Regions from separate parts of the Homo sapiens genome. Here region 1 is linked to region 2. The links come from fine-mapping of genetic effects on gene expression. A gene starts in region 2. The other region holds a variant in brackets. All regions are shown on one strand. Distances are from middle to middle.

Region 1 (8,516 bases), 78 kb before region 2:
ACATGGTGAAACCCCGTCTCTACTAAAAATACAAAAATTAGCTGGATGTGGTGGCGCGTGCCTGTAATTCCAGCTACTCAGTAGGCTGAGGCAGGAGAACTGCTTGAACCGGGACCAGGGAGGCAGAGGTTGTGGTGAGCCACGATCAACGATCACGCCATTGCACTCCAGCCTAGGCAACAAGAGTGAAACTCTGTCTCAAAAAAAAAAAAAATTATCAGTGGATGCTGCAGGATATAGGCCAGAGATTGAGAAGGAACAAGATATTTACATAGTATCAAAGTATCTCTCCACGAAAGTGCTCCTTAGTTACAAAGTAAAAAAACAGAATCTCCACAGTGGAGAAACATGGCGGATGCCACCTTAACCAAAGGATCAAAGTTAACATCCCCATTAAGGGTGAAATTGATATAATGTGTTTCCTGATAGGACCCACCAAGAAAGATCGCTGGTGTAATATTCCTGCCAGAAAAACATAACCCAAATACAACCTTGTGGAAACATCTGACAAATTGAGGGAAACTCTACATAATTACTGGACTATAATTTTCAAAAATGTCAAATTTATGAAAAATAAAGACAGGTTAAGGAACTAAAGCAAATTAAAGTGATATGGCCCTGGATTGGATTCTGGACAGGAAAGAAAAAAAGCAAAAAACAACAACCGTCAAGGACATTTTAGGACAATTGGCTAAATGGGATTATGGACTGTAGATTGGATGTGAGTATTGTATCAATGTTATATTTCCTAAAATTAATAACTGCACTGTAGTATATAAGGAAATGTCTTTGTTTTAGGAAACACATACTGAAATATTTAGTGGTAAAGAAACATAATGTCTTCAGCTTGTTCTCAAATGGTTCCAGAAAAAAACACTCAAGAGGGAGAAAGACAATATGATCAAGCAAATGAGACAAAATGTTAACACATGGTGAATCTGGGAAGAGGGCATGCAGTTCTTTGTACTATTCTGGTATTTTTTTCTGTAAGTTTTAAATTATATAAAAATAAAATCTTAGCAAAAATGCTAATGTCTGGGACTCACATCGCCCCCCAGTTTCTTATTTTAATTTATTAATTCATTATTTTATTTTATTTTATTATTTATTTATTTTGAGGCAGTTGTCTTGCTCTGTCACCCAGACTGGACTGCAGTGGTGCAATCTCAGCTCACTGCAACCTCCGCCTCCCGGGCTCAAGTGATCCTCCCACCTCAGCCTCCCGAGTAGGTGGGACCACAGGCACCTGCTACCATACCTGGCTGATTTATTTTTGTTTTCATTTTTAGCAGAGATGAGGTCTTACTATGTTGCCCAGGCTGGTCTCAAGCCTCTGCAGTCAAGCAATCCTGTCTCAGCCCCCAAAGTGCTGGGATTACATCTATGAGCCACTGAGCCTGGCTATTATTTATAATGGGGGAAAAAAGTGGAAACAAGGCAAATGATCATAAACAGCAGAAAGGAAAACTGCCTTTTACTCATTAAATACAATAAAGCATTGCGAATGAATGAATTATAGCTGTGGGTACATCAATATGAATATGTCTTAGAAATATAATGTCTGGCCGGGTGCAGTGGCTCACACCTGTAATCCCAGCATTTCTAGAAGCTGAGGTGGGTGGATCACTTGAGGTTAGGAGTTTGAGACCAGCCTCGCCAACGTAGTGAAACCCCGTCTCTAGTAAAACACAAAAAAATTAGCTGGGCATGGTTGGGCGCGCCAGTTACTGGGGAGGCTGAGACAGGAGAATCGCTTGAACCCAAGAAGCTGAGGTTGCAGCGAGCCAAGATCACACCATTGCACTCCAGCCTAGGCAACTAATGTTAACTCAAAAGTGTTTAGGACACTGGGGAAAAAAATATCGTATTAAATGGTTGCTGCTCTTAGAAGTAGGCCCATCCTGCAGGTAGAGACCAAGTGGAATTGCCTCCTGGTGCCCTGTTCAGATTTGGTGTGGCCCTTCAGGCAAACAGGAAAGCCTGCCTGGAGAAGCCCCAGAGAGATGCCTGGGGTCTGGCTGCAAAGGAACCAAGGGTCTGGTGCTTTCCCATTTGCTAGTGAGAGGCAGGGTCTTGCTCATGATGTGGGAGGTCTGGAGCATAGGAAAAGGCCTTCGGGTGCTGAGCAGCTGAAAGGAGTGACAGATGTCATCCCAGAATCCCAGAAGACATGAGACTCACAAAGCAACAGTAAGCAAGGAAAGCAGCTAATGCATTGGTAAGTCTAAGAAAGCTCTAACTGATGTTTTAAAATGGAAGCAGTTGTGGGAGAATCAAGCCCAGGAGTTTAAGATCTGCCTGGATAACCTAGTGAGACCTCATCTCTACTAAAATTTTTTTTTTTTCTGAGATGGAGTCTCGCTCTTGTCACCCAGGCTAGAGTGCAATGGCACGATCTCGGCTCACTGCAACCTCCGCCTTCTGGGTTCAAGCGATTCTCCTGCCTCAGCCTCCCCAGTAGCTGGGATTACAGGCGCCTGCCACCACACCTGGCTAATTTTTGTATTTTTAGTAGAGATGGGGTTTCACCATGTTTGTCACGCTGGTCTCGAACTCCTGACCTCCCGTGATCTGCCTGCTTTAGCCTCCCAATGTGCTGGGATTACAGGCGTAAGCCACCCTGCCTGGCCTAAAAATTTTTAAATTAGCTGGATGTGGTGGTGGGCACCTCTAGTCCCAGATACTTAGGAAGCTGAGTTGGGAGGATTGCTTGATCCCAGGAGTTAGAGGTTGCAGTGAACTATGATCGCACCACTGCACTCCAGCCTGGGTGACAGAACGAGACCCTGTCTCAAAAAATAAATAAATAAGTAAACAAATACATAAAATACAATGGAAGTAGTAATCTATAATTTAAATTCTCGGTGATATCTCATGAAAGATGAAGGGGTAGGGATAGAAAACGAAACACATTCTAAGAACCTTGTCTTGTTTTGGGGGCAATCAATAGTTATTAATTCTAGATTTTGATAGAAAGTTACATTTAAATGTTATGTTAAAAATCAATGATTGCTAGCTGGGCATGGTGGCTTACACTTGTAATCCCAGCACTTTAAGAGGCCGAGGAGGGTGGATCACCTGAGGTCAGGAGTTCAGGGGCAGCTTGGCCAACATGGTGAAACCCTATCTCTACTAAAAATACAAAAATTACCCAGGCATGGTGGCACACACCTGTAGTCCCAGCTACTCGGGAGGCTGAGGCAGGAGAATCGCTTGAACCTGGGAGGAGGAGGTTGCAGTGAGCTGAGATTGCACCACTGCACACCAGCCTGGGCAAAGAGCGAGACTCTGTCTCAAAAATAAATAAATAAATAAATAAATAAATAAATAAAATAATTCTGCTACATGCTGTTTGCAAGAGACAACAAAAACAAGTTGGTAAAAAGCTGGAAAATTCCAGGCATGGTGGCTCATGCCTGTAATCCCAGCACTTTGGGAGGCCCAGGCAGGTGGATCACCTGAGGTTAGGAATTCGCGACCATCCTGGCCATCATGGTGAAACCCCATCTCTACTAAAAATACCAAAAAATTAGCCGGGCACCTGTAATCCCAGCTACTCAGGAGGCTGAAGCAGGAGAATCACCTGAACCCCGGGAGGCAGAGGTTGTGGTGAGCCGAGATCGTGCCATTGCACTCCAGCCTGGGTAACAAGAGTGAAACTCCGTCTCAAAAAAAAAAAAAAAAAAAAAAATCTGGAAAATAAGAGAATAAATTATGGCATAAAAATACTAATATAAAGAAAACAAATATAGCAATATTAATGCCAAACAAAAGAATTCAAAACAGAAAGCATTAAAAGGGACCAAGGGGGATATTTCATCTTTATAAAAGGTATAATATACCAAGAAGCTATCATGGTTGTAGCGGGCTGAATGATGGCCCCCCTCAAAAGATACATCCATATCCTAATCCCTGACATCTGTGAATGTTACCTTATTTGGAAAAAGGAACTTTGAGATGTAAATGAATTAAGGACCTGAGATAAGGAGATGATTCTAGATTATCCAAGAGGGCCCGAAAATCAATGACAAGTGTCCTTATAAGAGACAGGAGAGGAGAAGACACAGACACACAGAAGCGAAAGTGATATAAAGACACTAGCAGAGATTAGAATGATAAAGCTCCAAAAGCAAGGAAAGCGTTGGAATGCTGGCAGCTGCCAGACACTGGAAAAGGCAGGGGAGCATTCTCTCCTAGAGCCTCCGGGGGAAGTGTGGCCATGGGGACACCTCGATTTCAGACTTCTGGCCTCCAGAACTGTGAGAGGATACATTTTATTTTCGCAAGCCACTCGATTTGTGGTAATATGTTACAGCAGCCAGCAAGTTGACTAGCTAATAGTCATAGGCATTTGTCTATCTAAAAACATAGCTTTAAAATAAAGTAAAATTGTATGGAAATAAAGAATAAAGTGAACAATCCACAATTGGGGTGCTTGATTTTAACATACCTCGCCCAGAAATGGACAGATCAAGTACACAAAAAATAAGAAAAAGTATACAGGATTTGAGAGTATATATTATCTCAACAGGGAATACATATTATTTTAAAATGCACATAGAACATAAAGAGAATAACAAATTCCAGAGGCCGGGCTTGGTGGCTCGCTAATGTAATCCCAGCATTTTGAGAGGCCAAGGCAAGAGTGTTCCAGACCAGCCTGGGCAATATGGCGAAACCCCATTTCCACTAAAAATACAAAAATCAGCTTGGTGT[G/T]GTGGTATGTGCCTGCAGTCCCAGCTACTGGGCAGGCTGAGGTGGGAGGATTGCTCAAGCCTGGTAGGCGGAGGTTGTAGTGAGCCGTGATTGCACCACTGCACTCTAGCCTGGGTGACAGAGACAGATCCTGTCTCAAAAAAAAAAAAATTCCAGAAAGTGAAAATCATGGGTACTAGTCAGGGCACTCTACAAAAACAGAACCATAACCAGACATGGTAGCACGCGCCTGTAGTCCCAGCTACCCGGGTGGCTGAGGCAGGAGGATGGCTTGAGCCCAGGAGGTTGCAGTGAACCATGATCACGCCACTACACTCCACCCTGGGCAACAGAGTGAGACCCAATACAACCAATAGGATGTATACATACACACACAAACACACACAAACACACGACAAATATTTATTTTAAGGAATTGGCTGACATGATTCATGATTATGTGCGCTAGCAAGTCCAAAACCTTGACTAGGGAGTCAGCAAGCTAGAGACCAAGGGAACAGTTTACGTAATCCTGGGTCCAGAGGTAGTCAGTCTGGAGGCAGAATTCCTTCCTTCTCAAGGGAACCTCAGCCTTTCCTCCTAAGCCATTCAACTGGTTGGATGAGGCCCACCCACATTATGAAAGATAATCTGCTTTACTCCAAGCATACTGATTTAAAGGTTAATCACATCTGAAAATACCTTCACAGCAACATCTAGAATAGTGGGTTGTTTTTTCATTTTTCATTTTTGTTTTCTTTTCTTTTCTGTTTTTTGAGACAGACTCTTGCTCTGTTGCCCTGGCTGGAGAACAGTGGTGCAATCTCAGCTCACTGCAACCTCTACCTCCCAGGTTCAATCGATTCTCCTGCCTCAGCCTCCTGAATAGCTGAGATTACAGGAACCTGCCACCGTGTTTAGCTTTTGTGTTTTATGTATAATATCCAGGGTTTTGTTGTATTTAGCAGGTGGAATAGGTAAAAGAAAGTGTACTCCATCTTCCCATAAGCAGAAGTCTCTCAGATGGATTTTTTTTTAATATAAACTTTTTTTCTTTCTTTTTTTTTTTTAGAGGTGGGATCTTGCTCTGTTGCCCAGGCTGGTCTGGGATTCCTGGGCTCAAGCCGTCCTCCCACCATACCTGGCCTATTGTAAACTTTAAAATGTATTGCAGTTTACAATAAACATCCAAGGTATGATGTGATGGATAATTTTATGTGTCAACTTGGCCAGACTAATAGTAGTAGTCAGTTGTTTGGTCAAACACTAGTCTAGGCCAGTCGCAGTGGCTCACGCCTGTAATCCCAGCACTTGGGGAGGCAGGCGGATCACTTGAGGTCAGGAGTTCAAGACTAGCCTGGCCAACATGAGGAAACCCAATCTCTACCAAAAATACAAAAATTACCCAGGTGTAGTGGTGCACACCTGTAGTCCCAGCTACTTGGGAGGCTGAGGTGTTTGGATCACTTGAGCCCAGGAGGCGGAGGCTGCAGTGAGCTGTGATCACACCACTGCATTCCAACCTGGGTGAGAAAGCAAGACTCTGTCTCAAAAAAAAAAAAAAAAAAAAAAAACTACACGGAGCCAGGTGTGGTGGCTCACACTTGTAATCCCAGCACTTTGGGAAGCCGAGGCGGGTGGATCATTTGAGGTCAGGAGTTCAAAGACCAGCCTGGCCTACCCGGTGAAACCCTGTCTCTACTAAAAATTCAGGGCCGGTGCAGTGGCTCACTCCTGTAATCCCAGCACTTTGGGAGGCCGAGGCAGGCGGATCACCTGAAGTCGGGAGTTCGAGACCAGCCTGACCAACATGGAGAAACCCCGTCTCTACTAAAAATACAAAATTAGCCGGGTGTGGTGGCGCATGTCTGTAATCCCAGCTACTCAGGAGGCTGAGGCAGGAAAATTGCTTCAACCCGGGAGGCGGAGGTTGCAGTGAGCCGAGATTGTGCCATTGCACTCCAGTCTAAGCGACAGAGTGAGACTCTGTCTCAAAAAATAAATAAATAAAATAGAAAAACAAAACAAACAAACCCAACTCATTTCTTCCCTGAATTCTCCTCAAAAAAATAAATAATTTTTTTCTTTCTTTTCTTTTTTTTTTTTTTTTGAGACAGAGTTTCACTTTTGCCACCAAGGCTGGGGTGCAATGGCATGATCTCGGCTAACTGCACCCTCCACCTCCCTGGTTCAAGCAATTCTCCTGCCTCAGCCTCTGGAGTAGATGGGATTACAGGTGCCTGCCACCATGTCCGACTAATTTTTTTTTTTTTTTTTTTTGAGACAGGGAGACAGGGTCTGGCTCTGTCGTCCAGACTGGAGTGCAGTGACATGATCATGTTTCACTGCAGCCCTGGCCTCCTGGGCTAAAGCGATCCTCCTGCCTCAGTAGCTGAGACTACAAGAGTACACCACCAGGCTGGGTGCGGTGGCTCACGCCTGTAATCCCAGCACTTTGGGAGGCCGAGGTGGGCAGATCACGAGGTCAGGAAATCGAGACCATCCTGGCTAATATGGTGAAACCCCATCTCTACTAAAAACAAAACAAAAAAATTAGCTGGGCGTGGTGGCGGGCGCCTGTAGTCCCAGCTACTCGGGAGGCTGAGGCAGGAGAATGGCGTGAACCCAGGAGGTGGAGCTTGCAGTGAGCCAAGATCGCGCCATTGCACTCCAGCCTGGGCGACAGAGCAAGACTCCGTCTCAAAAAAAAAAAAAAAAAAAAAAGTACACCACCAAGTCCAGCTAATGTTTTCGTTTTTGTTTTTGGTAGAGATGAGGCCTCACTGTGTTACCCAGGCCAGTCTCAAACTCCTAAATTTAAGCAATCTTCGAGCTTTGGCCTCCCAAAGTGCAGGGATTACAAGCATGAGCCACCATCCCCAAGCTCTTTTCTGAAATGTTTATTTTAGTTTTGGTTCAGGGGGTACATGTACATATTTGTTAGATGAATATATTGCATCCTGGTGAGGACTGGGCTTCTAGTGTACCCATCACCCAAACAGTCAACACTGGACCCATTAGGTAATTTTTTTTTTTTTTTTTTTTGAGACGGAATCTTGCTCTATCGCCCAATCTGGAATGTAGTGGCCCGATTTCGGCTCACCAGAACCTCTGCCTCCTGGGTTCAAGCGATTCTCCTTCCTCAGCCTCCCGAGTAGCTGGGATTACAGGTGCCCACCACCAAGCCTGGCTAATTTTTGTATTTTTAGTAGAGACGGGGTTTCGCCATGTTGGCCCCGCTGGTCTCGAACTCCTGACCTCAGGTGATCCATCCGCTTCGGCCTCCTGGGATTACAGGCGTGAGCCACCGTGCCTGGCCCCATTAGGTAATTGTCCAATGCTCATTTCCCTCCCAAGCTCCCCTCTTTCAAAGCCCCTAATGTCTATTATTTCCATCTTTATGTCCATGTGTAACCATTGTTTAGTTCCCACTTATAGGTGAGAACATGTAGTGTTTGGTTTTCTGTTTCTGAGTTAGTTCACTTAGGATAATGGCCTCCAGCTCCATTCATGCTGCTGCAAAGGACATGATTTCATTATTTTTAGTGGCTGCATAGCATTTCATGGTGTGTGTTTGTGTGTGTATCACATTTTCTTTAATTAATTACTTTTTTTTTTTTTTGAGATGGAGTCTCACTCTGTCACCCGGGCTGCAGTGTAGTGGCACAATCTCAGCTCACTGCAACCTCCACCTCCTGGGTTCAAATGACTCTCCTGCCTCAGCCTCCCGAGTAGCTGGGATTACAGGCGCCTGCCACCACGCCCAGCTAATTTTTGTATTTTTAGTAGAGACAGGGTTTAACTATGTTGGCCAGGCTGGT
Region 2 (8,000 bases):
AGCAGGACCCCTATCCTGCTAGTTGCTGAATCCCCAGTGCCTAATACAGTCCCTGGAACATTGTAGTGTTCAAACTATTTGTTGAATAAATTAATGAATCATCAATCCCCTGAGACCAGGCATTGCATTTCCCGTTCTTTATTTCCTAATCCTCTTAGGGAAGGACCCAGGCATGCAATATCCCCTCCATCCCATCCCCATGCTCCCCACCCAGTGGGAGGACTCACTTGGCAAAGGGGATGAGGTTGACTCCATCATCCTGCACCTGCATGACTGGACGGGGCTGGGTAGTTAGTCTCCTTTTTGGTGCTGGGAGGATAATGGAAAAGAAGTCATTCATTCGGGCTGGATGTGGTGGCTCACGCCTGTAATCCCAGTACTTTTGGAGGCCAAGGCGGGCGGATCATGAGGTCAGGAGTTCAAGACCAGCCTGGCCAATATAGTGAAACCCCATCTCTGCTAAAAATACAAACATTAGTCGGGTGTGGTGGCGCGCGCCTATAGTCCCAGCTACCCAGAAAGCTGAGGCAGAAGAATCGCTTGAACCTGGGAGGCGGAGGTTGCAGTGAGCCGAGATCGCGCCACTGCACTCCAGCCTGGGGGACAGAGCAAGACTCTGTCTCAAAAAAAAAAAAAAAAAAAAAAAAGGCATTCATTCATATAATGTCTGTAGGGATGAGGCCAGTAGCAGATCTAGAGAATGGAAAAAGAATGTATGGATGCTGAAAAAAGAGAGAGCTTAAAAGGTATTTGTAGCGGCTGGGCGCAGTGGCTTATGCCTGTAATCCCAGCCCTTTGGGAGGCCGAGGCAGGCAGATCACCTGAGGTTGGGAGTTCGAGACCAGTCTGACCAACATGGAGAAACCCCGTCTCTACTAAAAATACAAAATTAGCTGGGCATGGTGGCGCATGCCTGTAATCCCAGCTACTCCGGAGGCTGAGGCAGAAGAATCACTTGAACCAGGGAGTAGGAAGTTGCAGTGAGCTGAAATTGCACCACTGCACTCCAGACTGGCAACAGAGCAAGACTCTGTCTCAAAAAAAAAAAAAAGGTATTTGTAGTGCTGGACTGTTAATTGAACATTTAGGTTGAAGATAGTGAGCACAGGAAAAGTGGATGTGGTAAAAAGATAAAGGAGAAAGCAAATCTTCTGAAGCTAAATGTGCAGAATAAGTGAAATTTACAGATGGCAGTTAAGCGACAACTGGCAATATGGGACAATGAAATTGAAAAATGATGACAGTGGAGACTGGGTGGGGTGGAGGCATTTGGGGGTAAGAGAAGTGACAGAATTGAGGGTTCTCAATGAATCAACTATGAGTGGTTAGTGAAAGTTAATTGTGTGGGCCGGGTGCAGTGGCTCACACCTGTAATCCCAGCACTTTGCGGGGCTGGGGCAAGAGAATTGCCTGAGCTCAGGAGTTGGAGACCAGCCTGGGCAATACAGAGAGACGTCATCTCTATTTAAAAAAAAAAAGTTGGCTGGGTGTGGTGGCTCACGCCTGTAATCCCAGCACTTTGGGAGGCTGAGGCGGGTGGATCACCTGAGGTCGGGAGTTCGAGACCAGTCTGACCAACATGGAGAAACCCTGTCTCTACTAAAAAATACAAAAATTAGCCGGGCATGGTGGCACATGCCTGTAATCCCAGCTACTCAGGAGGCTGAGGCAGGAGAATTGCTTGAACCAGGGAGGCAGAGGTTGCGGTGAGTTGAGATCGCGCCATTGCACTCCAGTCTGTGCAACAAGAGTGAAACTCTGTCTCTAACAAAATAAAAAAAGAAATTAAAAAAAGTTAAGTGTGGACATAATGGTCAACTGGTGACAGGGAAGGAGGGGGCAGTTGGGAATGCCTGTGGATAGGGAGGTCAGTTGCATATAGGGACAGCCAAAGATGACCTGAAGGCCAGTTGGGGTGGGGAGAAAGGGCAGTTAAGGCTGGGCACACTGGCTCACGCCTGTAATCCCAGCAATTTGGGAGGCGGAAGTGGGTGGATTGCTCGAGCCCAGGAGTTTGAGACCAGCCTGGGCAACATGGCGAAACCCCCTCTTTACCAAAATACGAAAAAGTTTAGCCAGGTGTGGTGGTGTGCGCTTGTACCCGGAAGGCTGAGGTGGGAGTGTCATCTGAGCCCGGGAGGTCAAGGCTGCAGTGAGGTAAGATCGCACCACTGCACTGCACTCCAGCCTAGGCGTCAGAGTGAGACCCTGTTTCTAAGAAGAAAAAAAAAAAAGCCAGGCGCGGTGGCTCAAGACTGTAATCCCAGCACTTTGGGAGGCTGAGGTGGGCGGATCACTTGAGGTCAGGAGTTCGAGACCAGCCTGGCCAACACAGCGAAACCCAGTCTCTACTAAAAATACAAAAATTAGCCGGGTGTGGTGGCAGGCATCTGTAATCCCAGCTATTCGGGAGGCTGAGGCAGGAGAATCGCTTGAACCCAGGAGGCGGAGGTTGCCGTGAGCCGAGGTCAGCCTGGGCAACAGAGCAAGACTCCGTCTCAAAAAAAAAAAAAAAAAAAAAAAAAGAATACTAGATAAGTTAGGAGAGAGTGCACATAGGCTCCCGAAGGACAGAAGCAGCCAGCTGGAACTGTAGAGGTGAACTAGTATTTATCCAAGGGAACTAGGGATGGGCTGGGAAAGCAGGTGAGGTCAAAAGCGGAGAGAAGTATACCGTGCGGAAGCGGCAGATGGGGCTAGTTGGAGTTGGGCTGAAAGGGCCTAAAGTGGGGTCTAAAGGGGATGTCCTGACTCGGAGGGGGGTCAGCAGAACGCGAGGGAGCAGCGGGAGCTGCGGGGCATTCGGGCCTCAGATAGTTGGGTCCAAGCGGGTGACCTAGATCCAAGGGCAGGATGGAGCTGAAGGAAGCCAGGAAGGATCCTCCACAGTTGACTTCGGGGTAGCCACGGCCTGCGCCTGCGAGGGTGGATGAGGACCCGAGGGTCCGGCTGGGGCTGAGGGGCTGCCTGGAGCCCCGCTGGAGGGAAGCGCCGGGCCGGAGGGCGCGGCCTGCGCCTGAAAGGGCGACGGGGACCCTCGACAGGTGGACCGGGCGTGGCCGGACCTTCCGGGCAGCCCCGCCCGAGGGCACGACTGGGGGCTGCTTCCCTCGAGAGGGGCCCTGAGGTGGTGGGCCCAGGCTGAAGGGCAGGCTGGGGCCTGAGGGACGCCCCGGGTCTGAGAGGGCAGCTCCGGCCTTAGGCGGCACCCGGGCCTGAAGGGGTTGTTTGGGCCTCAGGCGGCGTCCAGGGCGGCCGAACTTGAGGGCCAGGCGGGGACAGAGCGCCCGAGTAGCCGCGCCACGGCCGGCCGCATTTGGCCCCAGCACCTGAAGCAGCTGCGCGGCGAATTCTAGAACTCGGCGGGGCGGGGAGGAGAGAGACGGCGATTCGAGCCGCGGGAGGAGCCGGCGGGCGGTGCTCGTCTGAGGGCGGGGCCTGAGCGGAGCCACCTTCTGGGCGGGCCTCGGCAGGAGGCTCCGCCCCCTGGACGCGCCTCCAACGGCGGCGACGGGAACTGGGCCGGGGCCTGGGTGCCCCCGCGGGTCAGCCCCCGACGTTTCCCTGTTCTTCAGGCGTCTGCAACCCTCCTGGGTTGCGGCGTCTGCTCGCCCTTCTGCGTCCGCAGCTCGGTCCCCACGTTCCCGCTCGCTGGGCCCCACAGGCCAGGAGCGTTGCCCCTTTAACAAGAGTAGCCCGGGTCGCTCCCGGCTCCTTCCCGGGACCGCGCGTACCCGCCCCTCCGCGCGCGCTCGCGCGTCCCCCGCCCCTCGCTCCCGCCCCAGCTCGCGCTGCCCGGGCGGGCGCCGGCCGCTGGCGCCGCTACTGCTGCCGCCCCCGGGGCGCGAGTCCGCCGCCCGCCGCCCGGGCACCCGGCGAGGGGCGGGGGCAGCTCCGAACCGGCCCCAGATCCTTCCCGCTTCCGCCTCACGCTTCCCGGAAAGCTTGTCCCTCTCCGCCGAGCTGCTCCGGGAGCCCCGCCGCGCCGAGGTGAGGGCTGGGGAAGGGGGAGGGAAGGGACGCCCGCGGAGGAATGTGCCGGGTTGGGGGGCGGGGAGCCGGGGTCCGGCGGCGCGATCTAGGCTCAAGAGTCGGGATCATGTGCTGTTTGTTCCGCGGAGGCGCAGAGAGGTGCCAGGCCCGGGCGGCCGCCGGCTGGCTGGACAGGAGGACGGGTCCGCATGGCCGCCCTGAGAGGCCGGGCGGGGACCTGTGTGAGAACCGCCGGGTGGGCAAGGTGCAGGTGGCCCAAGACCCCCTTTCGGGCCGGTCGGCCCCACCCCAGCCGCCCAGTATCCTCCTTGTACCCCACGGCTCCTTCACAGCTGCACCGGCCGACCCCTGTCCCTACCTCTATTCCCTTACCCCGCTGGCCCCCAGCCGTGCCACCCCATCCCTGTCCCATTAGCTGCAGCAACGGCGTCACCATCGCTTGTCCCCACCAGTGTCCTTCCCTCCCCTGGTCAGGGTCTAGGGGGTCAGGGCTGTTCTTCCTGAGCCAGCTTCTGTGATTCCAGCTACTCCCTTCCTGTCCTGGGACAGACCAGCCCCTCACCCTCCCATGCTCTGCCCAGGAAGACTGGTGAGGGGAGGCCCAGCGTGACAGGAGTTTGGGGTCCACTGGGGCCACAGGAGGGGGCTCCGCATCCCTTATCCTTCGTGGTCCTCCTCCCTGTTGTCCGTGGGCGTGGGCTGCTCAGCCTCTCCTCCCAGGGTGTGGGCACCCGATCACCCACATTCCTGGGCTCCAGCCTGGCACCTTCCCCAGGGCAGTGGACGCCATAGCACTAGCCCCAGGTTGGGGCTGGCACCAGCCAGCCGGCTTCCTTTTCTTTCTCCCTTTTAGGGAGGCCCCAGGGACCCTCTACCCTCAAACACAGGTATTTCTGGGCGCCCCAAGGGTGGAGCCCTGAGGGTTGGTCTGATGGCTACAGGATGACCCCACCCTCCCCTGCTCATTGTCCCGGATCCTGAGGAGGAAGTGCTGGGGGCTGGGCAAGGGGCTTAGAGCCCACACAGCTGGCCCTGTGGATCCCAGTCCTGGGCCCTACCTACAGTCCTTGGACTTTGCCCATCTGCACTACTGGCCTGGTGCATGGAGGTTGTGGGCCTCAGGTGGAAACTAGATTCTCCCTTGCCGACACTGTGGGGGAATTTGAGGACAGGTTTTGCATTTGCAGTTTCCTCTCTGGTCTCTCTTCTGGGCTCCCAGTTTGTGCTTTGGCGCCGGAGTTCCCCACCCTGTCTCTTTAACACCGTGTGTTTGCTGTGCTGTGTCTCTTCCTCCTTTCCTCTCCCATTCTTTCCTTCATAGCATGACCTCAGGCTTGCCTTTTGTCTTATTTCTCTAATTTTCTTGGTGTCTGTGACTCTCTGCCCCTCCTCTCTCTCTTCCCACCCCCCTCACGTCTCTGCCCATGTGCCCCTCTCTCTGAATTGCCCTCTGTCCAGCCTCTTTCTCTCTCTGTCCTCTATCTGAACGTTCAGTACATTTGCGAGTGACAAGGAATAAAAATATCACCGTCCCTGCCCTTGGATTCACATTGCATTCAGCCACTCTAGAGGGGCAGCTGTCCGTACTTTTCCTGCTATTCCCCCCGTAACCTTGGCCCTCCAACCTGGGAACCCCAGACGGGTCTCTGGAACCACAGGTGCCTTCTAACAACTCTTCCCCCGCAATCAGGGTATCTCCCAGAGCCCCAGCTGGTGTGGCCAGGCCCCAGGAGTAGGATGGGGCTCCCCCTACGAGGGCCGGTGGCAGCCAGAACTGATACAGCCCCCCTGGTCTGGGGCCAGGACGCCAGGTAACTGGGGGAGACCGCCCAGGTTCCTGCAAGCTGGAATATGGCTGGGGAGAGAGGCAGAAATACCTTTGGGAGTCTCTCAAGACAGTGACATTTGGGAGGAAAGCCAAGGGAATAAGAGCTGGGTCCTTGAGAGGCTGGGTGGCTCTGGGGGAGATGTGAAGAGACTGGTTCCGGGAAGAAGCTGGGAGGCAATGTCTGGGTCCCTGCAGTGGTTCTGACCCCACCACTCCTTTCTCTGTCCTCCAGCTGAGGAGGGCAGGAGTGTCTGGAGCTATGGCTGGTGCCTCGGTGAAAGTGGCAGTGAGGGTTCGGCCCTTTAACGCCCGTGAGACCAGCCAGGATGCCAAGTGTGTGGTCAGCATGCAGGGCAACACCACCTGTGAGTGAGTCCCCGGGGCCTGGCTGGGCACAGGCAGGGAAGGCCGGGCCCACCACACAGGCCAGTCCCGCTGGGCCAAACTAAGAGGAGGGTAATGCTGGGCACAGAGCAGGTGCTAGTCGTAAGGGCGGGGGCTGGGGCAGGCTGGCCTTTCCCGTGTTCCCAGTCCCTGGGAGGGGGAATGTTGGCCTGGAGCCCTCCATTGCCCAATCCAGGGAGGCAGCTCAGTGGGGGCGGGTCCTAGGAAGCCAAAATTAGCTTTGGTGGCTGGAGGGGGTGGGGAATGTTAAAGGGGAGAGAAGAGTCAGGACAGTGGTGAGGAGTGGGATGCTTGGATTCCAGGGGCTGGTTGGGGTATGGGCAGGGACTGGGAATACCTGACCTTGACTTTCCTTCCTTTACCCTCTCCTGCCCCTCAGCCATCATCAATCCTAAACAGAGCAAGGATGCCCCCAAAAGCTTCACCTTTGACTACTCCTACTGGTCACACACTTCGGTGGGTTGTTGGGCTGGGGGAAGAGCAAGGCAGTGAGAGACAGAGGATTTAGGTCCTGGGGAGGGGACATGTTAAGAAATAGGACCCCCAGGGGATTAGTCAGGGTGAATTGGGAGGATGATCCTGGGTGGGGGTGGTAGGACCCTTAGGCTGTGATTGAGGCCTCGACAGGAAGGCGGAATCCCTTGGGGTAATTAGGACTAGCAGGGGCTGGATAGGATCCTTGGGGTGGTAAGGACAATGATGAGGGTGGGAGGGCACACAGGACATTTGGGGAATCGTCAGTGATGGAAGCAAGACTCTTGGGACAGAGACACAAAGGATAAAGACATCCAGGGTTACTCTGTTTTTCTCTGCCCCCACTTTCTCCTAGACGGAGGACCCCCAGTTTGCATCTCAGCAGCAAGTGTATCGGGACATTGGAGAAGAGATGCTGCTCCACGCCTTTGAAGGCTACAACGTGTGCATCTTTGCCTATGGGCAGACCGGGGCTGGGAAATCCTATACCATGATGGGGCGACAGGAGCCAGGGCAGCAGGGCATCGTGCCCCAGGTACGCCTAGGACCTGGTGGGGCAGCCAGGGCAGGAGCATCTTTAGCTGCCCTCTGAGGAAGGAAGGACTAGGGTCGGAGGATTATGGAACAGAGACCTGGCTCTGAGGCCATTGGTGATGGGAGATAGAGGTTGACTGCAAGCTGGACAACCCTCTGGGGTGGGAGGGTCTTCGCCCCTATCAGAGGCAACGAGCCTCAGTGAGTAGAGCAGGGCTTTGGCATCAGTGAGCCTTGGGTTCGAGCGCCAGTTTTACGACTTACTACTGTTTTACTTGGTTTCATAATAATTTGTGAGTATAGTTCTCCTGCAGGCTTGTGTACCACCAGCAGAGTGTTAACTGTAGAAACGCCAATTGGGATAACGGAGTTAACCATAATTGTCCCTGGCTGTCCAGCATAGCAACCTGGCACACGGGCTTGGGAGTCAGAACTCCTGGGGTTTGCACCCTGGCTGGCTGAACGGTAGCCTGTGATCTTGGGCAAGTGGGGACCTCTCTGAGGTTGTTTTCCCATCTGTGAAATGGGAATAACCCCTCCCTCAAGGCTGTAGCAAGGGTTAAATGGGGTCACTTGGGACTGGGCCTGGCCTGTGGCTGGACACTTTAGGTGTGCCCTGAACAGGAGCTTCTCTGTATTTCCCTGTGTCCCCCTCCAGCTCTGTGAGGACCTCTTCTCTCGCGTTAGTGAGAACCAGAGTGCTCAGCTATCCTACTCTGTGGAGGTAAGCCCGGGTCTTGGTGGCAGGGCTGAGAGGGGTCCAGAC

Which allele goes with the higher level. Positions count from the first base shown, and alleles are read on the strand shown. Sizes are in standard deviations (SD) of each study's normalised expression.
For the expression in prefrontal cortex of the gene that starts at base 3,356 in region 2, G is the high allele of the variant in region 1 and T is the other (small effect, 0.33 SD a copy in GTEx).

The links. PIP is the estimated chance that this variant, and not a neighbour inherited with it, causes the effect.
Region 1: its variant is fine-mapped to the expression of INCA1 in prefrontal cortex (GTEx, PIP 0.93).

What each region holds. Positions count from the first base shown.
Region 1 is chr17:4,915,688-4,924,203 of GRCh38, forward strand. No RefSeq gene overlaps it. Among named protein-coding and RNA genes, the nearest start is that of GP1BA, 12 kb to the right of the region's middle. The variant G/T (reference allele first, on the strand shown) is at 4,717.
Region 2 is chr17:4,994,167-5,002,166 of GRCh38, forward strand. INCA1 (inhibitor of CDK, cyclin A1 interacting protein 1) reads right to left here and starts at 3,356. Exons shown (of 7, transcript NM_001394789.1): 1 at 3,330-3,356; 2 at 228-309. The coding sequence starts at 271. KIF1C (kinesin family member 1C) reads left to right here and starts at 3,784. Exons shown (of 23, transcript NM_006612.6): 1 at 3,784-3,990; 2 at 5,684-5,804; 3 at 6,054-6,186; 4 at 6,606-6,682; 5 at 7,056-7,235; 6 at 7,893-7,958. The coding sequence starts at 6,081. RefSeq lists silencers at 3,097-3,186, 3,227-4,096, 4,147-4,246 and enhancers at 5,489-6,100, 6,101-6,711.